2 separate regions of the Homo sapiens genome follow, and region 2 is linked to region 1. The links come from fine-mapping of genetic effects on gene expression. A gene starts in region 1. The other region holds a variant in brackets. All regions are shown on one strand. Distances are from middle to middle. Region 1 holds the start of HSPB7 (heat shock protein family B (small) member 7). Region 2 has its middle 8.9 kb from the start of SRARP.

Region 1 (16,083 bases):
GAAGACTGCCAGGAGCCGGAATATGAAGGCCCCGCAGGTGGCCGCAAAGAAGCCCCTCCAGTAATCCCGGACAGAGAAGTGGGAAGACATGACCTCGATGCTGAACAGGACGCCTGGGGGCGACACTGATGTCAGGTGGGCCCCCACCCCCACCCACCTGTGGCTGTAGGGCCCCCTCCCCCATCTCGCCTCCTCCCTGAGCCATCTGTCCTGCTGTCCTACAGCCCGGACAGGGACAGACAGAAGGGGAGGGCAGGGCTTGCGCCCTGGGCGGGGAGGACCCCGCTGCCCAGGGATCCATCCAGCCTGGAATGCAGGTGTGCGCCCTCTCCCTATCGGGTGGGAACGGTTTGATCCCCATTTTACAGAGGAGGAAGCTGCGCTCAGAGAGGCCAAGGGGCCAGTGGATTTCAAACCCAAGTCTGTGTAATGTTATCCTGAAGCCTCTCAGCACCGCCCAACCACGCCCCCAACCACCCGCCCCGCCCCGCCGCCCCCGGGGGGTGGCTATACCCAAAGCGGGGCTGAAGTGAGAACAAGAATGAGCCCCATCCCCTCCTCCAGGCTCTCAGCTGGGCCGAGGGAGCCCAGGGTGTGAGGGGAGGAGCTTGAGGGACCCAGGGGGCGGGGCATGAGGGGGGTCTCACCGCTGAAGGGAGCTGCAAAGACTGTGGCCACGCCCACTGCCGCCGCTGCCACCAGCATTTCGTTTTGCTTGCTCTTGTTCTGGGGGATCCGAGTCCAGGGCTCAGAGTCAGCCCCCTCCCTCCCCACTCCCATTTCTCCAAGGAAGCCCCCGAGTCCCTAACCTCAGGCTCCCCGATGGTCGTGGTGCGCACACGGCCCAGGTAGGCAGCGATCATTACAGACAGGTGCACGAAAGGGCCCTGCAGAGGGAAGGGTGGGCCCAGGTGAGGGCAGCAGAGACAGTCTCACCCCGAGGCAGCACGGCTTCCCCACCACACCCCCTCCTCCATCTCCCCAACCCCCAGGGCTGTCCTCAGGTAGCTTTTGTCACACTGGGGACCTGGCCTGGCTCTTCCCCTAAGACTGAGCTCCCTGAAGGCAGGCACTGGCCTGAGTCTGCTCTGACCCAGCTTTGGTGGGGTATGGGGGAGAGCTGGGGCAGGGTAGGGTGGGCGGGGTGGCTGGGGTGCCCTCACACCTGACCATACCACTTTGCCCAGGAACAGGGTGCTGCCGGTGGCCAGGGTGCAGGAGAGGCCCACCACCTTGGCCCCAAAGTTCTTGATATCCAGGTAGTCCTCCAAGATCACACCCGCCAACATGGTCTTCAGCTCCGGGATTCCAGAACCTTAGCCAGACAGGACAGGAACAAGCAGGGGACAATCTCTAGATTAAAACTCTCTGCCAGGCGCAGTGGCTCACGCCTGTAATCCCAGCACTTTGGGAGGCCGAGGCAGGCGGATCGCGAGGTCAGGAGTTCGAGACCAGCCTTGCCAACATGGTGAAACCCCATCTCTACTAAAGATACAAAAAATTAGCCGGGCATGGTGGCGGGTGCCTGCAGTCCCAGCTACTTGGGAGGCTGAGGCAGGAGAATTGCTTGAACCTGGGAGGCAGAGGTTGCAGTGAGCCAAGATTGTGCCATTGCACTCCACCTTGGGCAACAAGAGTGAAACTCCATCTCAAAAACAAACGAACAAACAAACAAAAAAAACTCTCATAACTCTACCCGCACGGTGTTTTCACATTATGATTTTTTTTTTTCCTTTGAGACAGGGTATCACCCTATTGTCCAGGCTGGAATGCAGTGGTTCGATCTCGGCTCATTATAACCCCGACTTCCTCAGGCTCAAAAGTGATCCTCCCACCTCAGCCTTCCAAGTAGCTGGGACTACAGGCAGGCACCACCACACCTGGCTAACTTTTTGTTGTGGTGGTTGTTTTTTATTTTTTGTAGAGATGGGGTTTCACCATGTTGTCCAAGCTGCTCTTGAACACCTGGGATCAAGTGATCCACCCACCTCCCAAAGTGCTGGGATTATAGACTGAGTCACTGCACCTAGTCCTATTATGATCACGCAGAACCCTCAGAGGTTAGGATGCATAAACTCATTTTGCAGATTTGGATGCTAGAGTCAGAGAGGAATGCGAGTTGTCCACGTTCCTCCCACTGGGACTGGCAGATGGCTGTGTCAGGATGGGGGAGCTCTGAACAGAACCTCAGGCCACCACTGAGTGAGCCTGGAGCTCCCCTCTGCTGGCCTGGAGCTGGAGGAAGGGCTGAGTGGCCTGAGGGAGCGGCACCTCCTCCATGGGCCCCTTCCTGGCACCAGCACAGGCCCCACAGGGCAATCTCCTTCCAAGGAGCCCTTGGAAAGCGAGTAGGGCCAGCAGTGACCCAAGAGTCAAGATCTGGCCTTCTTGCTGTGTGCCTTCAGGCAAGCCACATAACTCTTCTGGGCTTGAGAAATGAGGCTGCAGCTTCCCGATTCCCCCCATCAGAAGCCCCCTGGGATCTGAGAAGGTTTTGGCACTGGGGACTGGCATGGCGACCGTGGACTCACCTCCAGAGGAGGGCGTGATGCTCTGGGAGAAGCCTGAGGAGAAAGAGACGAGGGCCACAGGGTACACAGTCCAGGAAAGATACCGGAGCAGGTGGCTGTCCCCAATCTCCCTGTACAGCCACTGGTGTGCTGGGGACAGCCGCGTATCAGGGAGGCACCCACAGCCTCTGCAGCCCTCAGGGCCAGACACTGTGGTGCCCACTTACTGACCAGGAAATGGAGTCACGAAGAGGGGAGGACCAGGCCACAGAGTGAGGTGCAGACCCCCAAGAAAAGGCAGGAGTACGACCCTGGGTCCATATCCCAGGTTTACCACTGCCTAGCTGAGTGACCTTGGGCAAGCCACTCAGCCTCTCTGAGCCTCAGTTTCCCCATCTGCCAAGTGGGCTAGTGATTGGCTCTTCCTCACAGGCTCATTGAAGACTAAAGACATTAAAGACTAAAGGGCCACTGAGAACTACATGACACAGGTGTGAAGCACCAAACACCGTAACACCATAGTAGGTGCTGCTTCTGGCAGCTGAGGGTCTCCAGAGAAAGTGTCTTAGACCCTTCCTGCCCACACCCCCTCTTCCAGGGAGGCCTCAGGGTGGAGGCAGGCTGCTGAGGGAGCAGGGGGAAGACTCCAAGTTTGGTGATCTAGGCAAGTGTCCCCACTCCTGCCCCAAGGCACGGAGGAGGGAAGGAGAAGGAACGGGGTGGCTGGAAGAGGAGCCAGAGAGCTCAGAGGAGGAAGGGCTCTTGGGAATATTCAGGTCTCTCTTCCTTGTGCGGCTGAGGAGACTGAGGCCCAGAGAGGGGCAGGAGCCTGCCCAGGATCACAGAGCAAATCAGGAGTAGAGCCAGAGCCCTCCCCGCACCCAGGTCCGTCCCTGCACCGCTGCACTTGGTGGCCCATCTGGTATCCCCAGAGCGTGCCTAGAATCCCTTGGCCCAGAGCAGCACCTGCCAGGGAAGAGTTACCTCGGACCACACACCCGATGGCAAAGTTCATGGCATAGCTGACCAGGGCCATGAGCACCCCGAGGGTCATCAGGAAGTACCAGTCTTCTCCCAGGCGGAACACCTTCTGCTTTAGCCACTCCAGGCCACCTGGGGCAGGGTATCGGAGTCCCAGCTTATGTTGGGGCAAGGGGCACAGACAGCCCCTTCCCTGGAGGTCTGCTTGGCTCCAGGCAGGGAGGACCCTGGTAGTTGAGTCTGGGGTAGTCCTGAGGGGGCCCCGCCTGAGTCAGAGAGGAATGCAAGTTGTCCACGTTCCTCGCACTGGGACTGGCAGATGGCTGTGTCAGGATGGAGGAGCCCTGAACAGAACCTCAGGCCACCACTGAGTGAGCCTGGAGCTACCCTCTGCTGGCTTGCCTCACACTGGGGGCTGGGCAGGATTTGTGGCAGGTGACAGTGGTGGCACAGTGGATGCCAGGACTGCTGCCCCTGCCAGAAGGCCTTTGACCTGTCCACTCTCCCCACCCGTGCCTGTACTGGGAGGTTCCTGGGGGACAGGGAGTGTGAAGGGGGCTGGCAGCTATAGCTTTCACCTGTATCCCTGCAGGATCCATAGCTTAGAGAGCACCAGGGTCTAGCAGACTTCTGCGTGTCCCAGGGCCTGTGGCGCCAGGTATCCTCTGGGTCCCCAGCAATGCCCCTGGCCCGCTGGCTGCAGCCCAGCCTGGGAGCTGGCCCTCACTGGCTGTGGGCACCAGCCACTGGCACTGCACTTAGTCTCCTTCTGTGGTCCCTACTTGCTCTGCCCCGTAGCTGAGGGGACAGTCAGGTCTCAAAGTGAACAAGGCACATGGGGCTCCAAGGAAGGGTGCCAAGTGCAGGCTGCCCCAGCCCCTTGCTGTGCCCCCAGCTGTCCCAGCAGCTAACCCCCACGTCCCCTCATTGGCACAGGTAGGTGAGGGAGAGGCCTGGGTGGAAGATAGGCACAGTGACCAGGCCTTGGGCTGTATCTCCTGAAAGGCAGAGGGCAGATGCCTGGCCCATCTGACCCACAGACAGCTGGACAGACAGACCCCTTCCCTCCCTGCCACCCAGGAGACTTTGGGCAGTCATGTCCTGGACAAATGACAGGAGGGTGGTTCCTGGGCAGAGAGGTGGGGTGGGAGCCAGGCAGGAATGATGTCCTGAGTGGTCCCCCGCGGGTAGGGAAGAGGACCTGGCTCTCACCTTGGATGGCTCGGCGGATGTGGGGACAGGGGCCCCACAGCTCCTGCAGAGTCACAGGGTCCCCTGAGAAGCCCTCACGCAGCCCCACCAACTCCTCCATCAGGCCCCTGGAGAAGCAGATGGAGGGAAGGACCCGGGTGAGCTGCTGCACGTCCTCGCGCTGCCTCTGGGCCCTTCCAGTGCTCTCCCCACCCAAATGAAGAGGAAGGATTGTGCGTGTGTGTGTGTGTTATCACACTAGGTCTGTGTGTGCCCTCATCCCTGAGGTTCCGTCACTGAGGGTGTGTGCCTGTGTGTGTCATTTTGTGGGATGAGGGTGGGATTCCTAGGTGTCCCCCTGTGTCCAGCAGCAGACTGTGGACACCGCTCCCACCCTCCTGGGTCGCTTGGTGCTTCCACTACTGGGAGCAGTCTCTGCCCAGGGCTGTGACTCTCTCACTGCAGAGTCCCATGGATGGCTCCGACTCTCCCTGCCAATCTCGGAGCACCCTCCTTTCTCCCCGACAGCTCAGGTCACAGAGGCAGGAAAACCCCAGGACCAGAAGGCCTCTGCAAAGCCAAAGTGAGGTGCTGGCTACTGCCCCTACCATCCCCTATGCCCTGCCTGCCTGGCCCTTCCAGGTTCATACTCCAGTCCACGCCCAGAGACCCCTCACCTGTCAGTCCTCCTGCTGCGGCTGAACTGGCCCTCCTCTCACAGAGCCTCCTTTGCTCCCAGCTCCAGTGCACCTGGACAGGTATATGCTCTACCAATCATCACTCTCTCCCTGCCACCCCCCTTCCCCGCCGGCCGGGGTTTACCATGGAGATTAAAAACGTCCTTGACAAACCAACCAGAACTGTGGAGGCCAGAGCTGTGCAGGGCAGAACTGCCAAGAGAGAAGGGGAGCAGGAGCCTCCCCACCCATCACAGCTGCACAGAGGGTGGTGCCCAGCTGTACTCAGGCTCCTGGGTGCTGCTGGACGAGGGCTGGGAAGGGGGAGCTCATGCACACAGCAGGACAGAGAGGGGTCATCTGCCAAGGCTGAGACTCAGGGTCCAGGGGTCTCAGAGCTGGACATGGAAGGTTTGAAAAAGCACAGAGGGAGAGGGGAGGAGGCTGGGAAGGGAAGGAGAAGGCAGGGGGGCAATGGTGAGTGGGGCCAGCATGACCACAGCCTCCCTGTGTGTCAGGTAGAGAGTCAGCCTTCTCCCAGATTAATTACCCTGAGTGCCCACGGAAATCCCACGAGGCAGGCAGCGTGATCCCGTTGTAGAGAAATGGTGTCTCAGGGAGCTGGGGCTGCCTGTCTAAGATCACGGAGGCCGAGGCAGAGCCAGGATTCCCAGCCCAGGTTTGCCTGGCTCCAAAGCCCGCAGGCTGTGCCACACGGTCCCATCCTGATGACCCATCTTGTCCAGGGCTGGCGAGGAGGCCGACACCTGGGGCAAGGCAGTGAATTGGGGTCAGGAACTCGGACTTGATCCTGTGTCCAGACCCTCCAGGCTCAGGAAATGCTTCTCAAAGCACACGTCCAAGGGCCAGCGGCTCTGGTGGGGACTTCTGGGTAATTCCACAGAGTTTGTCCCACCCCAACAGAGGATGGCAGCACAGGTGTGAGGGGACATGGCGAGGAACAAGCACCTGCCGTGTGCCTGCGACGTGTCAGGAGCGTCACATCTGCAGCTCAAGTCCTCCTTCCCACACCCTGTGAATGGGGAGAGCCTCGCCATTTTGTAGATGGTCAGAGAGGTGAGTCACTCATCCAAGGTCACACAGCAGAGGCTGAACCCAGCCCCACACTGTGCAGCTCTTCCCCTGCCCAAAGCTCCTCCAGCTCCTGAGGCTGAACCAGGGCAATGGTTTGGGCACAGAACAGAAGAGTTGTGTCTGATGCCACTTTTGGGCAAGAGGTTGGGGACAATTGCCTCCACTCCCACCCAGACAAAGCCACCCTCTGAAGCTTATGATAGCCCTTGGATGATTGTTAAAATCTGGGACCCTGGGCCACCCTTTGCCCCTAGATGCCAGGCAAGTCAAATCAAAATCAAAGATGTGTGTTGTGGGAGGTGGGATGGGAGTTGCCGCTCTGTATGGACTCGAGCCCACCTTCACCTTGGCCACCCCGACCTGTTGACTCTGCACAGCACCAGAACTGGCTGCCCTGTCAACATCCCGATTTCCAGTGTCTGGTCTGGGGCAGCTGCTGGCTACTGTCCCACAGCCAGCACTGCACGTCCACATCTACCCTCACCCCCCAGCCCTGTGTGCACCAGGAGGCTGAGAAGAGGGCAGCCAGGGTGGCTCAGCAGGATGACCGGTTTGAAGCCAGCACAGCTCTGCTGACCCTAACTCTTTCATCAACTAGAGCCTCAGTTTCCTCTTCTGTATGATGAGGTGAGCCTGGAAGCAGGGGCCTGTCTCTGCCTTATTCATCTCTGAGTCCTTCAGAGCCTAGAACAGTGCCCAGCACCTATTTATAGCAAGGTTTCAATGAATACCTACTGAGTGATGAGGGCTTCATCACTGGCCTATGAGCTGGCTGTGTGGGGAGCTGATGGGAAGAGATGTGAGGTCCCTTCCCCAGATCCCAAATCAAAATCCTGGGGTCCAAGGAAAGGGTCTGTGTTTGTGAAAAGCTCTCCTGGGTGACTGGGATTCAAAGGACTGCATCATCTTTGTAGCTCCTTCTGTCTCTGTGATCTGAAGGTAGAGGCAGGGGAATGTCCTTGATGACCTTTTGAGGTCCCTCTGGGTCAGTGAAGCCAGAGGATCCAGTATTTGTGTGGGTGATGCCTCGGGAAGGGGGAAAAAGGGGAGGAGGAATGGTGGGCGGGGGTGGGTAACGGGATCTGACATCCAGGGGCAGTGACTCAGGCCCTCAGCACCATGACAGTGTGTCTGCATTTAGCCACCGGCTCCTGTTTCCCTGGCGAGCGGCAGGCTCTGGGCCCCCCACCCCGCCCCACCCTCTCTCCATCTCACCTCAGTGCTGGTGGCTTCCCAGCTGCCCTAGAAACCCCTCAGCCAGGCTGGGTGTCACAGGCCCCGACACGGGCAGGAAACTCTGCCAGAGGCAACAGGCCCTGTTGCTCCAGGCAACAGCCTGGCCCGCCGCTGTGCCCTGTGCCCTGCTCTGCTTCCACTCCACATACCACCAGCACCGCTAATACCCCTGTAGAAGGAGCTCTCCAGGATGAAGCTCCAGACTGGGTTGTAGGGGGCTCAGACAAAAGAGAAACTGCCCGTCTTCAAGAACCTTCAATCTAATGGGGAGACAGGTGAACCCTCGCCCCCGTGGGAACTGCCAGTTGGATAGGGAAGAAGGGACACAGCAGAGAGTCACAGCACACAGGAAGACTATGTCACACTGCCAGGTGCTGTGGGAGGACAAAGACAGTCAGTGCTGGGGGCATCTGGACTGGGTGTGGGCCCATGTGAGCAGGAGCAGTCAGAGAGGCCTCCCTGGGGGAGGAGGCATTGGAGCTGATCTGGGACGGAAGGGACGGATTTGGAGAGGACAGCAGAGGCCCTTAACTGCAACCTGGGCAGAGCAGAGGGCCTGGCCGCCTCTCAGAATGGCCTCCACCCTGGCCCAGGGCAAGGTCAGTCCCAGCTTTGCTGAGCAAGCAGGTGGGTAGGGAGGGGCTTCTCTGGCTCTTCCGGGCCAGCCTGTCTCCATAGGCACATGTTCAAACCACCTCGGCCTCTGAAGGGCTTTGGGTCCAACACATCTAGGTTCGAATCCCAGCTCTGCCACTTACGCAACTGCGAGCCCCGCCCTTTCCAAGAGGCTTCGCTTCCCCGTCCGTAACATGGGAAGAGCCCCTCCACCCTCCCAGCTGTGTGGGGATCAAACGGGGCCGTGCTGGACAGCTTGCAGCCAGGAGCCCATGCCCAGAAGGCATTCTAGAACTCAGGGCTAGAATAATTGTCTTCCGGAATTCTCTTTTACCTCTGACTGAAATCCCACCTAAGGCGCTCGCAGGCATCACCTCTGACACAGAGATGGAGCAGACAGTTGCCGGGAACACAACCTTCTAGACCTTTAAGGAGAAAGCTGCCAACTTTGTCCTCTTGGGGCTGCTGAATGTTCTGAGAGTCAGAGGGAGTGCAGGCACAGAATCCAGGTCCCCATGGGGGCTGGCAGGGGACAGCTGCACATTTTACACCCCCTGGCAGGGCTCAACCTTTCCTTAGAGATGGGCTGTGAAGGTTGTCTGCCTTGAGGGAAGGAGCTCCTGACGTCACAGAGCGGTGGTGCTTCCACCTACCCTGTCCCCAAGGAGCCTGCACACTGATGGAGGAGGTACAGCCGTGGAGGAGAACCAGAGTCTGGAGGGGAGGCACAGTCCTCAGGAGCCCCCAGGCTGACGGGGGAAACAAAACACACAATAAACCCCAAACTTGCAAGGTTCTGGGGCAGGCACCGAGGTCCGAGTGGCAAGGAGACAGGATCCAGCCCTGTGCAGTGGTGAGGAGGCCCCTGGGGCTGCTGTGATCAGCCTGGAATGTCAGGCTGTGAGCTCAGCCCTCTCGGCCTGCGTGTCGGGCTGTCAGCAGGGCCGGCGCACGGGAGAAGATTTCCAGCCCCCTCTGGGCCATGGAGAGGCCTAAATTTAGCTAGTAGACAAGGGGCTGGCCCCAAGCCCAGGGACAGTCGGCCTTATAAAGCGGCCGCAGTCGGAGCCTGGCACGCTCGCCCAGAGGCCTGCGCCCACACCCTCTCCTGTCCAGCCCTCGCCCGCCTGGGCAGGGCCCGGCGCCGTCCGTGGATGAGCCACAGAACCTCTTCCACCTTCCGAGCGGAGAGAAGTTTCCATTCCTCTTCCTCTTCCTCCTCCTCTTCCACCTCCTCCTCGGCCTCCCGTGCTCTCCCGGCCCAGGACCCGCCCATGGAGAAGGCCCTGAGCATGTTTTCCGATGACTTTGGCAGCTTCATGCGGCCCCACTCGGAGCCCCTGGCCTTCCCAGGCAAGTGATCCGGGCCCTGAGGGGAGGGGAGGTGCACAGGGAGGGGACGTCTGCTCCAGGGCGCCACCGAAGGCGCTGTGGCTGCCGGTCGGCCTGGAACAGGTGCTGCACAGCCTGCAGCCATGTGTGGCCACCAAGACAGATGTGGCCACAGGGACAGATGTGGCCATGAAAACAGGTGGGCCTCTAAGGAACAGTTGTGGCCCTGGGGGTTGGACATGGTTCCATGGCCACCCATGCTCTGTAACCACAGCCAATCCCAGCTGGAGCCCTGGAGGGCTGGATGGGTGAGCGGTGGGGGGCAGCCCCCAGGCTCCAGGCCTGGGGTGGGGTTGTTACAGACCTAGCCTCATATACACACACACTGTGCTGGGTGAGGCCCCACCCCCACCCCAGAAAAGGTGGGCTGTAGGAATGAGGAGGAGCTTAGGGAGAAACAGCTAGGGGGGAGGTAGGGCCTGGGGGAGCCGCCCCTTGCCCCAAGAGAAGGAGCCAGAACCCCCGGATCTGCATGCAAGGCCTGCTCCATGCCTCGCTCACAGCAGCCCATCCCACAGCCCGCCCCGGTGGGGCAGGCAACATCAAGACCCTAGGAGACGCCTATGAGTTTGCGGTGGACGTGAGAGACTTCTCACCTGAAGACATCATTGTCACCACCTCCAACAACCACATCGAGGTGCGGGCTGAGAAGGTGAGCCCCCCACCCCCTACTCACCGCATCCCAAATTCTGCTCCTGCCTCCAATGTCTCCTACTCCCCCTTACCATCCTGGGACCCCAGACCCTGGCCAGTGTCCCTTCCCCACCCAAACTCCCCCAGGGCTAACTGAAGGCCTTGTCCCTGCAACCCATGGCCATGGGGCCCCCTCACTGCCTCTCTTTGCACCGAGGTTCCCAGATCCTTTCTTCCAGGGCCTGAGCAGCTGAGGGAGCCTCCGAGGAATGGGAGAGGGATGGAGGGATGTGGGCAGAGGGAGCCTGAGGGGGTGGGGCTTGAGGGTGGGAGATGACAGGTGTGAGATGGTGATGGCAGAGTGAGGACAGCTCCTCTGGTAGCTATAGGGGGGCGGATGCGGGTAGGTGGGGAACTCACCTGGGCAGTGGGGGGAGGGGTTTCTCCATGTGACCCACCTCAAGCCCTCTTCCCTCCCACAGCTGGAGACCCATCCCCCATCTTGGGACCCCTAAATTAGGCCCGAGGCTGGGCAGGGGCCCTGCAGTTTCGGGTCACACACACTCCAAACCACACACAGCGCCCGCCCACAGGTCTCAGGGTCACTGGGTCTCTAGCGTGTCTGAGTCCGAACTTCTAGGAGGCACTGGGGCCTCCACCCTGGAGAGGGTATGGCCAGGCCTGAACAGGGGCGTTGCCCAGGGACAGCCACGGCTGCCAGGAGAGAGGAGAGGACCTGACCCAAGCCTCCTCCTAAGCCCCCAAGGACTGGCTTCTTCCCCTCCACATTCAAGGGTGGATTTCTGGGCGTCCCTGCCAGGGATGCCATGGACTGGGGGCACCAAAACCCACAGGCAGCATGTGCCAGCCCTGCCACCCCCAACAGTGACTCAGCCGCCCCAAACTCCCCTGGACACTATGTGCTGGCTGAGTTGCGGGGGAGGGGCCGGCGCTCAGCCCTGGCGGGCAGATGCCCAATGTGCCCGGGGATCCAGGAAGGCACGGCTCTCCTCTGTCACCTCCACGTTCCCCAGGAGCCCCAGATTCGGAGCCACTGCCACGGAGCCTCCTCTCTCTCCAAGCCCCACCTCTTCCCCATGTCCCTGGCCTGTTCCTTGGAGCTACTGGAGCTCTGCGAAGCACCCCTGCGCTGTCCCTGCAGAGCCTTTGGCCTGTGGCCATCACCACCCTGGGCAGCCCCTCGGCACCTGAGGGCAGAGCCCCTCGGCATGTGGGGTCTGGCTGGGGTTAGAATGGGGAGAAGAGGGCTCTGGCTTGTCACAAGCAGGACAGGGGTCGGGGCAGCCTGCCTGACGGGTCACCCCTTCCCCAGCTGGCGGCTGACGGCACTGTCATGAACACCTTCGCTCACAAGTGCCAGCTGCCGGAGGACGTGGACCCGACGTCGGTGACCTCGGCTCTGCGGGAGGACGGCAGCCTCACTATCCGGGCACGGCGTCACCCGCATACAGAACACGTCCAGCAGACCTTCCGGACGGAGATCAAAATCTGAGTGCCTCTCCCTTCCCTTTCCCTGTCCCCCCGCCCCACGCCTGCCAGCAAAGCCTCGCTAACCCCATTACAACAGCTCCAGGACATCTCAGCCCAGGTTCTAGCCCCCACGCACCCCAGACCCCAGGTGGACCATCCTCCCAAACTAGGGCCCTCCACTCTATCCAGGGCAGGCCAGGGACTCCCTGGCCTGACACATGATGCCCAGATTTCAGATTTGGCCTCCGTCACTTAATCCAGAGTACAGGGGCTGGGGTCAGGGAAGGAAGATCTAAAGAACCCACTGTGGGTCAGGGGAATGGGACCAGCAGGACATATGGGCAAGCTCTGCAGGACAGACAGACAGACAAACCCTCTGATCTATGAAGTCTCTGCAGGGCAAGGGGACCAGGGACCTGGAACCCTCTTGGCCAAGGGGAGTGGGAGGGACAGAGGGAAGGTCACAGGCAAGGGTGCCTATCTAAGTGGAACTAATTGCCCGAGGGCTCAGCAAGGCCAAGAGGAGACAGCCGTGACGGTAAACTTCCCCTCTACCAGCCTCCAAGCCCCACGCCAGCGAGCAGGCTGCCTGCCCACCCCGTGCCCCCAGCCAGCTGGCTGTGCCAGGGCAGAGCCATGCCACATCTGTATATAGATGGGGTTTTTCCAATACAGCTGGTTCGTGATAAACTGCATGAAACTCCTGCCGTCCTGCGCCTGCTGGGGCCTCCAGGCAAGGCCAAGTGGGGTTGGGGGTGGGGCTGGTCCTTCTCCCTCCCACAGGCCTGTGTTCTTGGGGCTGCTCCCATGCAGACAGGATCACCTAACAGAGATGGAAGCCAGGGCATGGATGGGGCTTTGGGTCCTCGAGGTTGGACCCCAGCTTCTTGCCACCTTCCCCTCCGGGCAGTCAGCTCTCCATCCATCCCCCTCTTTAATCTATGAATCTATAGGCTCGGTGTGTGTAACACACACACCCCTATCGTTGTCCTTCAAATACTCAGCATTACCATTGGTTGAGGCCAAATTCAGAGCTTTCTCAAATCAGATTTACAATCTCCATTTTCATTAACGGGGAAACATCCCCGAGCCACTGAGTGCTGTGCTTTGTCACTGAAGGTTAGATCTGAACCCAGGGTGTCAACTGCTGCTCTCAACTCCCCACCTCTGGGCACTGAGGAGTATTTCCCCTCATTCTACCTCTCTAAGGCTATGCAACCCTCCCCACGTCTTCCAGCTGGGGGATGGGGGGGAGTCATAGGAAAAGCCCCCATCTCCCATCTGGGATAGGGACCTTCCATCAGCCTTAACCCTGGGAAATGCCTGCTGCCCCCAATGACTCTTGGTTTCGTCTCCCACATACAGAAGCAGGGTGGAGGGGAAGGGTGGGTCTCAGTTAGCAGGGGTCCCCAGGGCAAGTCAGCCTCCTCCCTCCATGCCTCTCTGGTCAGTGTGCCTTAGGGTGGCCTCTCACTCCCACCACTCTGGGCCCCTTGGGGGAGGACTGGGGAGGGGGCCGTGGGAGAGCCCTGACGCTGGAACCTGTATACACAATAAAGGACAGTCTCACAGACTTCTGGAGGCCGCCTGCCTGGAGTTCTCAAACTTAGGGCAGGGCTGGAAACCCTGAGAGAAACAGACACACCTTCTTTGAGATTTGGGGATGGGGGTTGTAGCTCAAGTTAAAGCTGAAGACCTCACAAAATGTGGGCGTTCCTCGGCCTCCTCCGTGGGCTCCCCAGACCCCCCTGGGCAGGAACCCCAGGATTGTTTCTGGAAAACCCTTGCAACACCTTCTCGTCCAACTGCCTGCCCTTCCCTTTTTATTATTTCTTTCCTTCCAGAGATATTTACTGTCCTGCTATGTGGCGGGCACTGTTTCAGTCCCAGGCGCAGGGACGCAAAGGTGGGCAGGCTGCACCGGGTCGCCTGCCCTCTTGAAGCCCTTCTTGTACCTAATGGGGATTCTGCGGCCCAGAGAGTCTGAGTGACTGGCCCAGGGTCACACAGCCCCAGAGGCAAAGCCAGCTGGAACTTGGGGGCGGGGGTGTCCGGGTTGGTTCAGGGAGCCTGGGGAGGGGAGCTCTCCGGAGGGGTCCCCCACCCCTCACACCCCCAGGCTTGCTCCCCAGTGCAGCTCCACCGGCTGCGGTCAGGAGGAGGGGAGGGGATCAGAGGGGGCGCGGTATTTCCAGCCTCCATGACTCACTGATTCCACTGGGCTATTTGCAGCCCCGACACTCATTGGCGCGAGGTTGGGGGAGGAGCCAGCCTGGCTCCCCCTCCCACGCCCCCCACCCGGGGTCAGGCTCACCTTGGCGTACGGATCTCAGCGAGCCCTCCCTCGGCCGGCCGGTGCTGGGAAAGGGGGCAGCTTCCCAAGTGGTCAGTGGGGCCGAAAACCACCCCCAGCCCCCAGCAGCCCCCTCCCCAGACAGCAGTTTGCGAGGATGAGGACTGCTCAGGGGACCAAGCGGCCGCTGGGCCGCTGGGGCACGTCGGGTCTGAAGGAGCCCTTGGCCGCCAGCCCGGCCAAGGTGACCCTGCGGTAGGGGAGGGCGGGTCGGCCGCGGGGCTTTCGCCGGCTCCGCCCCCTGGGCGCCCAGACTGGCCGCGGCGCTTTGTCTCCCAGCGCCCCCAACCCCCTTCCAGGCTAAATATAGGCCTGGCTGCAGGCCCTGCGCCCCGCCCCCACCCGGAAGAGTAATTATAGCCGCCCCATTCATTGAGCAACTAGTGTGTGCCAGGCGCGCCGCTGATTCCCACAAGAGTCCTGCAAAGCAGGTACTATGATTAACGGTGTGCCTAGAAGGACACGGAGGATCAGCGAGGTCAGGCAACTGGCCCAAGGTCACCCAGCCTGGAAGTGGCACGGTTGGGATGTGAATCCTTGCTATGGCTCTGGAAGGCCATCTGCTGGGTCAACCTGGATCAGTCGCCACCACCAATGGGCTGAGGCAGCTTCCCTCCTCCCACCCTGGCAGCCCCCACAGGGAAAGGGGGCTCTCGCGTCTTGTAGCTTTGGGGGTGGGCCTGGGCAGCAGGTAGGGGAAATTGAAAAGACGCAGCTCTCTGGGGCTGGAGACCTGTGAGAAAGTCCAGGTCAGGTAGTACCAGAGACTGGGAGGGGCAGAGAGGACCTAGAAGGTTTCCTCACTTTGAAGGCCTAGCAGAGGCCAAAGGCCTCCTCCTCCAGGAAGCCCTCCAGAGCCAGAGCACAAAGAGCCCAGGCAGATGTTCAGAGCCCCTTCCCAAACCCTGTCTTCAAAGTCAGATGGAAGTAGCGCATGCTCAGGAGCCTGAGGTGAGAGGATCTCTTGAGCCCAAGGTTTAGAGACCAGCCTGGGCAACATGGCAAGAACCCGTCTCTACACAAAATACGAAAATTAGCTGGTATGGTGACGTGCACCTGTGGTCCCAGCTAGTCGGGAGGCTGAAGTGGGAGGATGGCTGGAGTCCAGGAGATGGAGGCTTCAGCGAGCCGTGATCGCACCACCGCACTCTATCTTGGGTGACACAGTGAGACCCTGACTCAAATAAAATAAAAAATGACCGGGTGTGGTGGCTCACTCCTGCATTCCCAGCACTTTGGGAGGCTGAAGAGGGTGGATTGCCTGAGCTCAATAAATACAAAGTATTTATTTGAAATCAGCCTGGACAACATGGCAAAACTGCATCTCCACAAAAAATGCAAAAATTAACAGGGTATGGTAGCACATGCCTGTAGTTCCAGCTACTTGGGGGTTGAGGCTGGAGGACTTGCTTGAGCACTGGTGGTTGAGGCTGCAGTGAGCCATGTTTGAGCCACTACACTTCAGCCTGGGCAATAGAGTGAGAACCTGTCTCAAAAAAAAAAGAAAAAGAAAAAAAAAGTGACCTTTTGTATTTGACATCTTTCACCTCGCATAATGTTTTCGAGATTCATCTATATTGTAGCATGGACCAATAATCTTTTCCTTTTTAAGGCTGAAACATATTCTGTTGCATGGCTAGGTCACAATTTGCTTACCTTTTCATCAGTTGATGGATGCTTGGGTTTGGTTCCACCCTTTGGTTTTGGTGACTAGTGCTGCTCTGTGCACTCGTGCAGATTTTCTTTTTTTTCTTTTTGAGACAGAGTTTCACTCTTGTCACCCAGGCTGGAGTGCAATGGCGCGATCTCGGCTCACTACAACCTCCGTCTCCTGGGTTCAAGCGATTCTCCTGCCTTAGCCTCCTGAGTAGATGGGATTACAGGCGTGCACCACCATGCCTGGCTAATT
Region 2 (13,543 bases), 24 kb after region 1:
AGGTATGCCAGTAGCCTCTAGAAGCTGCGAAAGGCAAAGAAAGGGATCCTTCCCTGGAAATTCCAAGAAGAAACCTTCCTGCCAACACCTTGATTTTAACGCAGTGAGACCCACGTTGAACTTCTGACCTATAGAGAAAAAATTTGTGTTGCTTTAAACTCCTAAATTCTGATAATTTATTTAGTATCAATAAAATACTAATACACTATGCAAATAACAAAGAAAATTTTAAAAATTAAATTTTAGCTAAATTTTGTTGCCTGTGTTACATGACTTAAAAAGTAACTGGGTTATTTATATCTTACTACAATGTCTTGCTTCCTTCAGGGTCTCACTGTTGCCCAGGCTGGAGTACAGTGGCACAGTCATGGCTCATTGCAGCCTCGACCTCCCGGCCTCATGCAATCCTCCCACCTCAGCCTCCTGATTAGCTGGGACTACAGGCTCATGCCACCTCACCTGGTTAATTTTTTAAAAAACCTTTTGTAGAGATGGAGGGTCTCACTGTGCTGCCCAGGCTGGTCTCGAACTCTTGGCTTCAAGCAATCCTCCCATCTCGGCCTCTCAAAGTGCTGAGATTATAGGTGTGAGCCACCATGCCTGGCCTACAGTTTTTTTTTTTCTTTGAGACGGAGTTTTGCTCTTGTCGCTCAGGCTGGAGTGCAATGGTGCAATCTCGGCTCACTCCAACCTGCAACCTCCGATTCCCAGGTTCAAGCGATTCTCCTGACTCAGCCTCCCGAGTAGCTGGGATTACAGGTGCCTGCCACCACGCCCAGCTAATTTTTGTATGTTTAGTAGAGATGGAGTTTCACCATGCCGGCCAGGCTGGTCTCCAACTCCTGACTTCAGGAGATACTCCTGCCTTGACCTCCCAAAGTGCTGGAATTACAGGCGTAAGCCGCTGAGCCTGGCCCCACAATTTTTTTAAAGAAGTAACTGGACACGCGTGATAGCAGGCACCTCTGATACCATAGGACAAGAAGGGTACTTTATGTCTGTGGTCTCCTACCCCAAAATTCCTAACGCCAGTCTAAATATGAGAAAAACATTGGATAAATCCAAACTGAGGAACATTCCATAAAATACATGTACAATCCCCAAACTCTCAAGATCATGAAAAACAATGGGAGACAAAAACTGTCACAGACCAGAAGAGACTAAACAGACATGAAAACTTGCTACAGTGGAGGTATCCTGAATTGCATCTTGAAAAGGGCACTGCAGAAATACTGGTGAAATCTGAATAAAGCCTGGAGTTTAGACGCTAATAATGTACTGATGTTGCTTTCTTAGTTTCGACAAACATTCTATGGTCATGTAACGTGTTGACAATAGGGGAAATTGGATGTGGTGTATACAGCTCTGTACAACCGTTGCAGCTTTTCAATACATTGGAAATTGTTCTAAAATTTACAAATTATTATTGGCCAGGCACGGTAGTTCACGCCTGTAATCCCAGCACTTTGGGAGGCCGAGGCAGGTGGGTCACTTGAGCCCAGGAGTTCTAGGTGAGCCTGGGCAACATGGTGAAACTCCATCTCTACTAAACATACAAAAATTAGCCAGGCTTGGTGGTGCGTGCCACAGTGCACAGCGCACAGCCATAGCTCACTGGAGCCTCAAACTCCTGAGCTCAAGCCATCCTCCTGCCTCAGCCTCCCAAGTAGCTAGGAATACAGGTTCATGCAACTATGTCCAGCTAATTTTAAAAGTTTTTGTAGAGATAGGGTCTCACTATGTTGCCCCGGCTTAAAAATTATTATTATTATTATTATTTTTTGAGATGGAGTCACACTCTCTCACCCAGGCTGGAGTGCAGTGGCGCAATCTCGGCTCACTGCAACCTCTGCCTCCTGGGTTCAAGCGATTCTCCTGCCTCAGCCTCCTCAGTAGCTGGGATTATGGGCGCACGCCACTACGCCTGACTAATTTTTGTTTATTTTTAGTAGAGACAGGGTTTCACCATGTTGGTCAGGCTGGTCTCGAACTCCTGACCTTGTGCTTAGTCTGCCTTTGCCTCCCAAAGTGCTGGGATTACAGGCATGAGCCATCGCACCCAGTCAAAAATTATTTTTTAAACTGCACATAGTGGCTCATGCCTGCAGTCCCAGCACATTGGGAGGCCGAGGCAGGAGGAGCACTTGAAGTCAGAAGTTCCTTGCCAGCCTGGGCAACATGGCAAGACCCAGTCTTCACAAAGACTGAGTGGCTTGGCCCTGGTGCAGTCACATAGGTCCCTGCTAGCTGAGCTGAAATTAAAACCCATTCAGGGCAGGGCGCAGTGGCTCATACCTGTAATCCCAACACTTTGGGAGGCCAAGCCAGGTGGATCACCTGAGGTCAGGAGTTCGAGACCAGCCTGACCAACATGGAGAAACCCCGTCTCTACTAAAAATACAAAATTAGCCGGGTGTGGTGGCACATGCCTGTAATCCCAGCTACTCGGGAGGCTGAGGCAGGAGAATCACTTGAACCCGGGAGGCACAGGTTGCAGTGAGCCAAGATCGCACAATTGCACTCCAGCCTGGGCAACAAGAGCAAAACTCTGTTCAAAAATAAATAAATAAATAAATAAAACCCATTCAGTCTGACTCCTGCGTGGCTCATCGGGCCTGTGGACTGGACTCTCCTTTTCCCTCCACACCCCCATCTGAGCAAATTCAGTCCACGAGCAAATCATGCAGGTGGCACCTTCACAATGATCCTGAGGTGACACTTCTCACCACCTGCCTTCTCCCACCTAGTTTGAGCACCCTTCATCACTTACCTGGACTAACCAACTGGTCCCCCTCTTCTCCCCAAAGGTGTGATGTGGCCTATTAACGCCCGAGCCACAGCTGAACCCTTCTCTGCCCAGGACCCTCTGCTGGCTCCCCAGCTGCTCTGAGTAATAGCTAGAGCTTTGCAGCAGCCGCAGGCCTTTGAAGCTGGGACTTCTCTCCCTGAACTGCCTGCTGCTCTCCCCTGCTCACACCAGGCTGGATGCAAACTTCTTCTCTGGGTCTCAAGCGTACCGATCACGCTCCTGCCTCAGGGCCTTTGCACGAGCCATTCCCGCTGCCCGGAATGCTCTCTGGCCAGATAGCTGCTTGGCTGACCCATCACCTCCTACAAACCTTGCTCAGACCTTGCCTTGAACTCTTGGCTTCAAGTGATCCTCCCGTCTCGACCTCTCAAAGTGCTGAGATTATAGGTATGAGCCACTGTGCCTGGCCCACATTTTTTTTTCTTTTTTCTTTGAGACAGAGTTTTGCTCTTGTCGCTCTTGTCTCTTGGCCATGCATCTAGAGGGCGTCCAGCACAGAGTATGTGCTCAATACACAGGTGAAGAAGGACAATCCACGAGACAGCTGTCCCTCTCCCAGGACCCTGGGAAATGCTGGGGATGGGGAAGATGTTCAGATGTCAAGAGGAATAGGGTCTAGTGTCTGGGCTCTCATTTGAGTGCTCTTCCTGTTCACAGGAGTGGATGGGCTGCACAGTTGGAGCAAAACCGAGATGAGTTTTAAGGGCCACTGAGCATCTTCCCCACTGGCAGTCTTTCCCAGTGTCCTGGGAGATGCACAGCTGTTTCCTGTGTTGTCCTGGATCCCTAGAAGATGGGCCAGGCTTGGAGGTAGAAGGAGAGCTCAGAGGGGAGGGGGCAGAGAAGGGACTGCCCAGATGTGACACATCTGGAGTCTTCAAATCTGCACCAGGACAGATGAGTAGAGCTGCATTTTTCCACCCTGCTCATGTTGGCCTTTTGTGAACTTTGTTTCTGCCCTGTCTGCATTGCCCTTAGGTATTCACTGCAACTAGTTATCACTGGAATAAAAATGGCCATAGGCATTCTGCCCTTCCTTCACCTCTCTCTTCTCCATCCCTTCCTTCTTCCTTCTTCACCTGTGTATTGAGCACATACTCTGTGCTGGACGCCCTCTAGACGCATGGCCAGGGTTGTCCTCATTGATGAGGCAAGATCTGAGCAAGGTTTGTAGGAGGTGATGGGTCAGCCAAGCAGATATCTGGGCAGGGAGCATTCCGGGCAGTGGGAATGGCTTGTGCAAAGGCCCTGAGGCAGGAGCATGATTGATATGCTTCAGGCCCAGAGGGGAGGTCTGCATCTGACCTGGTGTGAGCAGGGAAGAGCGGCAGGCAGCTCAGGAAGAGAAGTCCCAGGTTCAATGACCTGAGGGCATTGCAAGGCTTTAGTTCTCACTCAGAGGAGCTGGGGAGCCATTGTGCAGTGCAAGAGCCAAACTGAATGGGTTCCAATTTCAGCTCAGCTAGCAGGGAGCTATGTGACTGCACCAGGGCTGAGCCAACCCACCTGTGCATGAGTGACAGCACCTCACGGGTTCCAGAGCTCGCATGTCCATGGTCCAGCTTAGTGCGTGGCACGCCAAGAATACTTGAGAAATGGCAGCTAAGGACTGTCGCCTCAGGAGGGTCTCTTCTCATTTCCAAAGCTGTCTTCTGCTTGATGAAATGCACACAGACACTGGGCAAGTATGTGTTGAGCTTCTAATCTCTCCCAGACACCGGAGACTCAGCCATAGACTGGCCGAGTTCCCTGCCCTTGTGCTGCACTCCCCTTGAGGAGACAGATGATGGGGACATGTAAGGAGCTAAGACATCCTGAGCTGGGAAGGAGGGAAGCAGGGGCTAAGGGATGGAGGCAGCTGGTGGGGGCAGGTGGGGGTGGCAGGGATGCCTGGAGCCTGGGACTGGGGCCGGACTCTGCACTGCTCTGCTTGAGGACCTAGCTGGGCTCTGACTCATGAGGGCAGACAGTGGCCAGGGTGAGGCTGGCGCAGTGCAGCCCCTTCCCCACTGCTGAAGACGCTGCCTTTGTGGGGTGGTAGCACAGGCTTTGGGGAGTTGAGAGCCATCCTCATCCTAGAGGTGGTTGTTTCTGGAAGCAAAAATCCAGGGTTTATGCTCCTGGGACAGGGGAACCTTGGGGCCTCGCGTCCTCCCCATAACCTTCGCATTGGGCAGCAAAGGCATCTTCCTGTTGAGTCTGAGGGAGAGAGAAGTGGTGTCACTCGCGGTGTCAGCTTTCATCTCAC[A/TTAGTCCTCACA]GTGGCCCTGTGAGGTAAGGACCATGATCAACCCAGTTTACAGATGAGGACACTGAGGCTCAGAGAAGTTACATGGTTTGTCCAAAGTGACACACTAAGTGGCTGAATGGGATTGAATCCAGGTCTCTCTGAGACAGCCCAAGCTGTTGATGGAACCCTCTGGCTCACGGATGAGCAGGTAAAGTGAACAAACACTTTAGAATGCTTATCTGGGGGTGGGGGTGCAGGGAATTGAGCCTTCTATGGGGCCCGGAAGATTTACAGTTGTCCCTCGGTGTGTGTAGGGGAATCAGTTTCACCACCTTCCACAAATACCAAAATCCACAGATGTTCAAGTCCTGATATAAAATGGTGCAGTATTTGCATATAGCCTAAGTACATCTTCCCGTAGACTTTAAATCATCTCTAGATTACTTATGCAATCACATGTCAGATAATGATATTTCAGTCCATGCCAGAATGCACATAGGATGGTGGTCCCATAAGATTATAATGGAACTGCCCTATACAGGTGCACCATCTCTAAAAATTGATATCTCAAAAGAGATGGGGTCTTTTTATATTGCCCAGACTAGTCTAGAAGTCCTGGGCTCAAGTGATCCTCCCAGCATGGCCTCCCAAAGTGCTGGGATTGTAGGTATGAACCACCATACTTGGCCAGGTGTACCATTTTTTATCATTTATACTGTATTTTTATGATCCTTTTCTGTGTTTAAATACACAAATAGCCACCATTGTTTTTGTTTGTTTGCTTGTTTGTTTGAGACAGAGTTTCACTCTTGTTGCCCAGGTTGGAGTGCAATGATGCGATCTCAGCTCACTGCAATCTCCGCCTCCCAGGTTCAAGCGATTCTCCTGCCTCAGCCTCCTGAGTATTTGGGATTACAGGTGCCCGTCACCATGCCCAGCAGATATCTGGGCAGCCATTTTTTGTATTTTTAGTAGAGACGGGGTTTCACCGCGTTGGCCAGGCTGGTCTCAATCTCTTAACCTCAGGTGATCCAGCCGCCTCGGCCTCCCAAAGTGCTGGGATTACAGGCATGAGCCACCATGCCCGGCCCACAAATAGCCGCCATTATGTTACCATTGCCTATAGTACTTAGTACAGTAACATGTTGCAGAGGTTTGGAACCCAGCAGCAACCAGCTCTACTATTCAGCCCAGGTGTGTGTTTGGCTGTAGCCTCTGGAGGAAGCTAAGGAGAAGTGACCTAAAGGCAGAGGGTGAGTCTGAGGTGGGATCCCAGGACAGGTACAAGAAGTTAGGCAAAAGAGGATGAAATCTGAAAAAATTTCACTATGTTAATATAATTACTGCGTTAATAACTTTAGATAATAGTTAACATTATTATTTAGTTAACAGGATTGCACCCAAGATAAATTAATTTTTTTAAAGAGATAAATTCTCATTCTGTCACCTAGGCTGGAGTGCAGTGGTGCGATCATAGCTCACTGCTTCCTGGAACTCTTGGGCTCGAGCAATCCTCCTGCCTCAGCCTCCTGATTAGGTGGGACTATAGGCACACGCCATCATGCCTGGCTATTTTTTTTTACTTTTCTCTAGAGGCAAGGCCTACCTGTGTTGCGCAGGCTGGTCTCAAACTCCTGGGCTCAAGTGAACCTGCCTCAACCTCTCAAATTGCTGGGATTACAGGTGTGAGCCACTACAGCCAGCCCACATTTCTTAGTTTGGACAAATGTGCCATGGTAATGCAAAATGTCATTACTAGGGGCAGCTGGGTATAAGGTGTAGAGTACACTACAGTGTCTTTTCAATTTTTCTGTGTATCTAGAATCATTTCAAAAGTAAACATTTATTTTAAAACGTGAAAGTGTTTATCCTTCCATGAGTGTAAAGTACAAAAGACAGGCTCATGGTGTCAACGGAAGTCAGGACACTGGTTGTGGGGCCGGGGGCGCTGGAGGGGCTGGCCATGGTTGGCTTTGTGATCTGGGGGCTGGTGTGTTCCATCTGTGAATGTCTTTCGAGCTGCACACTTACCAGGGATGTAAGTCATGTCTTAATACATTTTCTTAAGTTTAACACCAAATAAAATGAGAATGAAAAGCTTGTTTGGGTTGTGGGGATTCGGTTGTTTATCCAGTCATGAGCCCTGGCCTAGATGCTTCTAGAAGCCTGGAGGGAACTGAGAACATTCCAAGTAGAGGTGGCAGAGCCAAGGCCCTGAGGTGGGAACACACTGCTGCATGTCTCTAGCTGTGAATGGGGTCCCCTAGTCGGAAGCAGTGCTGTGTGCCCTGCAGGGCCAGCAGGTCCATGTCCACATTATGGGTCAGTGCAGTGAAAGCCAATCTCAGCCCCCTCCGCAGTGTGACCAGCCTGCCAGCAGGTGGCCAGCTGGTCCATCCCAGGGACTGGGTGCAAGTCTCTTGTCAATAGAGAGGGCGCTCAGCCATGGTGTCAGCCTAGTGAGCCTTGGTAAGGGCCCGTGCAGGATGCTGAACCTCTTCCGTCCCCATGACCGTCTCAAGACCACTTGCTCGGTGGGCGCATCCAGCAGGCGTGGTGGCCGGGAAAGAAGCAGGCTGCATCCATAGGGCGTGCCATTTTGCTCGACTCAGGACCCAGAGCATCCTCCGTAGTAATTCTCTTCGGTGGGAGCACTGGGAACTTGAGCCACAGATACCTTCCAAGTCTGAGCTGCTGAGGCGAGGGCTGCAGGGCGCCCTGCTGTCAGGAAAGCCTGCACCAGCAGCTGGAAGGCACGTGGTGGGGGCGCCTGCTGTGGCTCCAGCAGTGGCTGCGAGGCTTCGGGATCTCACCCAGCTTCTGCGAGGTGAATTGTGACAGTGCAGAGCTCCGCAGTGCCAGGGTCCCCTGCATGGTCATGCTCACTGCAGCTGGGAGCCCACCACACCCCTGGTGCCCCTCACTTCCCAGGGCTGGGGTCTAGTCCAGACCCCTCTTGGCTTGGGAATTGTGCCTTGGGAGGGGGACACTGTCCCACAGGTTGGGACAGAGGCCCCAGGCATGCTGCTGGCTGGCCGGGGCTGCGGGGATGCCATGCTCACCTTTCTCTCTCGTGGCCTTGATGGGACTGGCTTCCCCATTGAACGGGATTTTCCGAGGTGTCTGGGGCTGTGGTGCAGCTTGCGGGGTGCCACCCTGACCCCTTCCAGACTTGCCAGTCACTGACCACCGAGCGGGCCAGACACAGGTGCCACGCTGCAGTCGGGGTATCTCCCGACCTCCCTTTTAGTCCTGATGGGCCTGGGCAGGGCCTGGTTTCGGGGTCCCCATGGGCTTCCTGGGCTAGGCTGTCCCATGGTCCTGGGGCTGTCCAGGACACATTTGGAAGGGACTTGGACCCAGCAGCTCTGTTCAAAATCATAACGGGGGGCAACGAGGGCCCCCCACATCCAGGTTCATAGGGATGGAGCCGTGGCATGGAGTTCCACTGGAGGAACCTCCAGGAAACCTGAGGTTCCCCCTGAGCCAGGGCCAGGCTGGGCACACCCTCAGTCCCCGGTGCCCCCAGAGAATGGCCTGCTGCCCTAGGTTCCATGGAAGCCCCCTCGTGCCACTGGGCCTTGGCCTCACAGATAGTCCCATCAGGACAGGGTATGAAAGGACGAGGCACCCATGGAGGGGAAGCTGACCAAACGGGCCACCCATGGCGGGGAAGCTGGCCAAATGGGCCACTGGAACCGAGTTGTTGGGCCAGGAGGGGCCTGCCTGTCCCCCTGCCAGAGGGTCTTCCTGCCAGGTGAAGCCAGCCCAGGCCTGGGTGCCAAGGACCCTTGCTCAGGTTTGGCTGAAAGAAACAGACGTGGTCAGCATCTCCAGTGAGCCCACGCAGTCCTTTCTTGGCCGGGCTCCACCTGCCTGGGTCTCTGGAGTCCTCAGGGTCTCTGTGTAGCCCCTGTGGTCTGACACTGAGGACACACCTGCAGGCTGCTGATCGCAGACGGAGGGGTCTGTGCCTCCTGTGGTGGGAAGCTGTCGGGGTGCAGCAGGTGGCTCCTGGGACTGCCCTCCCCCAGAGTTCAGGCTGGCTGGGGGCTTCCTGCCCCATGCCGTCATCCCAGGACTGTTGAGCCTGGGATACAGCCTCCAGTCAGAACTCAGGTGGGAGGGGCCTTGGCTGTCACCCAGTCCCCTCGCCACCTCACATGGAGACCTGTTTCCACGGTGGGTGAGAGAGCCCAGATACAGAGCCCCCTCTGCCCTCCTGGGCTGCCCAGTCCATGCCAGGACTGACCGTTCCCACACCTGGCTGAACTCTTGGCTCTGGCTCTGGGCCAGGGGTCCCCCCTGTGCCCACCCACTAAACGCCCTGGTCGGGGATCAGGGACATAGATTCCCTTGTCTCTCTGGCTCAAGGCTTGTTGTCCTGGCACCCTTGGAGGGGTGTTCAGGAGTGAGGAGCCTCTGCTGCTCTCTGAGGCTGTCAGTGCTCGCAGGGAGGGGTGGGGAGTCCCATAGATGGATCTGGTTCCTCCAATGACCCTGAGGGCCCTTTGAAGGGGAGAGTGGGACATGGTGGAAAGTGGGAGGGGGCTTGTTGGAGAGTCTTGCGCACATCCCCCTCCTGCTTGCACAGCACGTCCGGTACACACAAACTGACCACCTGCCCTGAGGACCTGGGGGCCTATTGTACTTTCTTAGAGTCCGGAGGAAGAGGAGGAAGAAAAGGCGAAGAGGAAGGCCCAAGTAGTAGTGTTGGAGGTCCTGGGCACTCCCCAACTACTGACTGCCCCAGGGGGTGACTCGGGAGGGTACCTGGTGCTGCAGGCCACCTGGGGGTGGCAGGTCCCCAGGCTTCCTTGTTTCCTCATAGAGGCCCAAGGGTGTCTGAGAACTGCATCATCATCCAGGGCCCAGGTATGGGAAAACTGGTCCTGAAAACATGCCCACGGCCACACCTGGATATCTTCACGAGGTGCTCTAGGGACAGGGTAGGCATCAGGCTAGGAGTGTTCCCTGGGAGGGGTCAGAGCCCATACCCCGTTACTACCTCAGCATCTCCCACTGGGGAGTGCCGGATCCCTTTGTGGCCACCCCAGGGGTCCAGATGTGCACAGGAGGCTGTGGCTAGGGGGCAGCCTGAGCAGGGAAGTGCTCACCACACTCCTGACTTTCATCTGGGTCATGTAGGGGATGGGCTCCCACAGGAGGGGGTATGTCACTGTTCCCTGCCCAGCCTACCCAGCCAGACCTCCCTCTGGGCCAGAGAAGAGGATCATGGGGACAGTGTGAGGAAGCTGCCACCGGGCCAGTCAGGGTCTGACCCCTGTGCTCCCCAGTCCCCATTGGGCACACGTGGACTTACTCCTCTGAACCTTAAAGGCAGTGCGTGCCATTGGCGTCAACACCTGTTCCCCTTCTAGCAAATACACGTCCCAAAGGCTCAGGGTGAGCCCGAGAGAGATCTGTGGGGACAGCAGGTGTGGGAGGACCTGGCCCTTCCAGGCTGGGGGCTGGTGGCTCGAGCCGGGCCCACTGGGGCTTCAGTCCCCCAGTCACTGACCCTTCCCATGAGGGTCATCAGACCCCTTCAGGAGGCTGGGTCAGACAAGGTCTTGCAGCTCCTCATGGGGGAGCACTCATTTCAGTGGGGATGTGGCTTCTGGAGAGAGGGGCTTCCCCAGGACTTGAGGCTTCCTTGAGCCCTCCCAAGTGGGTCCTGGCCCAGTCTGCCCATGAGGCTGGGCCTGAGTCCCAGCCTCTGCCGTGGGATGACCCCTCTTGGGCAGAGGGCTTTGCTTGTGTGTCCTGCAGATATCTGCCTGTGCCTCCTATGTGCTGGGGGTGAACCGGACCCCTGGGCGAAGAGCAGGGCCCTGTAGGGCAAGGAGGGTCCCTGAGCCAGGGTCTCCCTGTGCCTCCTTACCCCATTGATCAAGCTCCAAAGCAACCAACCTAATGAGGAACCCTGAATGCATAGCCCTTCCTTGTCCTGATGGGAGGAACAGAGGTGCTCAGGTCCCTCTGGGCTGCCCTAAAAACCTCCCTCTTCCAGGGCCCTCTGAAGACCCTTCCCCAAGTGCAGAACACTGGGCGGTGTCCAGGGCTCCTTACACCTTCCCCTCCCTGCACTCCTGGTGGACACACTGTCCTTAGCCCTGCTCTGTGGGAACTGGCCCCAGTCCCTGTGCCTCTGTCTCCTCCAGGGCAGGAAAGGAAACCCAACTCCAAATCCATGGAGAACCCCACGTCCCAGGTCAGGCCCTGGCTAGAACTCACCCTCTCACCAGCCCCATGAGGGTCTGGCAGCCCCTGGCTCCTCCGGCCCCACAGGATGCAGGGCCACTGGGGAAGAGCTGGGGGGACCATAAACTCACTGCGTGCCTCATGGTCTTGGGGTATGGCCTGGGTGCCACATGCTCCTGGTGGTCTTGGAGGCCCTGGACCCTTGCGCTATTTGGGCTGTGGAATCCTGAGAAGCCCCCAGCCCATCATGAAATCAGCCTGCTCCCAAGATGTGGGACCATCAGCTGGAAGAGCTGGACAGCTGCAGAGGCCCCTGAACCCTGAGGTCTCCCACCCTCTCATCTGGGGACCCCACCATGCGGCCTTGGCCCTGGGGAGGAGGGGTGGGAATATCCCCTGGAGCCTGGCTGGAGGTGCTCCTGGAGGCCTCCTGGGCCAGGGTGCTGGGAGGGCAAGCCTGACTTTGAGGCCACGACAGAGGGCGGGTGCTGGGCTTCATGGTGGTCTCCTAGAAGTGGGGTCGGGCCAGGGGACACGGGATGGGGAGATGTTGCCATCAGGGCTTTTTCGGCCCATCTGTGGGTACCAAGGGCAGCTGGAGGGCAGGACCCTCAGGGAGGGGAGAGTCAACTGTACAGCATTCAGAGCCAGAGGGCGTTGCTCCAGGACACAGAGGGTGGCCACGGGGATGATGAGATGCCCTCTGCTGATGGGGGTGAGAGGCATCTGACTCAGGATCTGGGGGTCCCGGTTCAGCCCCAGGACCCTCAACAGAGACATCCTAAAGGCTCCAAACAAGCTGGCAACACAAGGAAGGTGCCTTCACGGAAAGTTGAGATCACCTGCCCAGGGTGGCCGTCCCCGGGTCTGGCTGCATGAGGCCCTGGGGGCAGCTGTCCACCCACCCTGCAGGGAGTGCCTCTCACCAGCCAGCATCTGGGCCAGTGCCCAGAATATGTCCTCCTCAGGCAGATAAAGGAGGAACAAGGCGGCGACGTGGCTCAGGTCCCTGCAGTAGTCTACCTCCTGAGAGAGCCAGAGTTATGGTGGAAAGACATCACCTGGGAGGGCTGAGGTCACCTGGGACGATTCATGTCATCGGAGAGGGCAGAGGTGACTGGGGAAACTTCCTTTGAAGAAGAGGCTTCCTCAGGATGCAAATTCATTTTGTGACAAGAGCCATGTCCATCAGGCATTTCAGCAATTTGTCCAAAATGTCTCCTGAGAGCACTTGTCCTGTGTGCGACACTGCCAAGCTTTGGAGCCCAGTGGATGCCCTTAGTTCCTGGATCCACAGAGACTTATGGAGCCTGTGCCTGGGGCTTTCTAGAGGTGGAGGCGGTGGGGTAGGGGGAAGGGCGGGAGAGGAGGCCTTGCATGGCATAGTGCAGGGCAGGAAGCCAGCCAGGGACCCGTTTGCAGTGACTGCTCCCATCCCCATGCTGACCTCCAAACCCACCCCTACCCCACCCTGGCGCAGGGTCGGGCCTGGGAAGGTGTCCTCTGCTTTGGCCTCAGCAGATCACAAGGAGGAAGCCAGCAGCCCGGTGGGTGCACCACTCGAGCCAATGGTGACCTACAACTTCTACTTCATGGAGCGTGGGGCACCCGCCCAGGAAAGCCCAGGCACACCCCACACCCCTGACCTTGAGGGCACAGGGAGGTGGGGGACCAAGGTCCTGCAGCCCTGTGCATGTGTCCTGAAAGGTGGTCTAGGAGTCCTGTGTGCACCTGTCCAGGGGGGCCCAGAAGCCTGAACAGTGGCAGGGAGGGAGAAAAGGAGGGAGAGAGAAGTGGAGAAGAAGGAGAGAGAAAGAGAGATGGGAAGAAGGGAGTGAGATCGAGAGAGAGGAAGAGAGATGGGGACAGAGACAGAGGAGGCTGAGAGGACGAGGGAGAGAGAGACACAAAAGGCAAAGAGAGAGACAGGGAGAGAGAGGTTCATGAGTAGGAGTTCGGGTCACTCTTGATGCCAGTTCCCAATGCAAACTTAGGTTGCTATCACCTAACCACACATGCAATAAAGTCTTCTGCCTGCTGCTTATAGCCCCCAAGAACCCCTTCTCCTGGAGAATAAAATCTTTTTTTTTTTTTTTTTTTTGAGACAGAGTCTCGCTCTGTTGCCCAGGGTGGAGTGCAGTGGTGAGATCTTGGCTCACTGAAAGCTCCGCCTCCCAGGCTCAAGCGATTCTCCTGCCTCAGCCTCCCGAGTAGCTGGGATTACAGGCGCCTGCCACCGCGCCCAGCTAGTTTTTGTATTTTTAGTAGAGAGAGGTTTCATCATGTTGGCCAGGCTGGTCTCGAACTCCTGG

Evidence for each region.
Region 2: its variant is fine-mapped to the expression of HSPB7 in lymphoblastoid cells (GEUVADIS, PIP 0.93).

What each region holds. Positions count from the first base shown.
Region 1 is chr1:16,011,340-16,027,422 of GRCh38, reverse strand. HSPB7 (heat shock protein family B (small) member 7) reads left to right here and starts at 9,380. Exons shown (of 3, transcript NM_014424.5): 1 at 9,380-9,658; 2 at 10,216-10,349; 3 at 11,664-13,394. The coding sequence starts at 9,460. The coding sequence ends at 11,843. CLCNKA (chloride voltage-gated channel Ka) reads right to left here and starts at 5,387. Exons shown (of 20, transcript NM_004070.4): 1 at 5,360-5,387; 2 at 4,704-4,810; 3 at 3,495-3,623; 4 at 2,532-2,660; 5 at 1,176-1,315; 6 at 810-887; 7 at 648-726; 8 at 1-113. The coding sequence starts at 4,803. RefSeq lists enhancers at 473-1,381, 9,087-9,831, 9,832-10,578 and silencers at 13,915-14,174, 14,325-14,534.
Region 2 is chr1:15,988,585-16,002,127 of GRCh38, reverse strand. It overlaps the pseudogene TBC1D3P6. Among named protein-coding and RNA genes, the nearest start is that of SRARP, 8.9 kb to the left of the region's middle. RefSeq lists a silencer at 7,336-7,485 and an enhancer at 7,392-8,232. The variant A/TTAGTCCTCACA (reference allele first, on the strand shown) is at 5,058.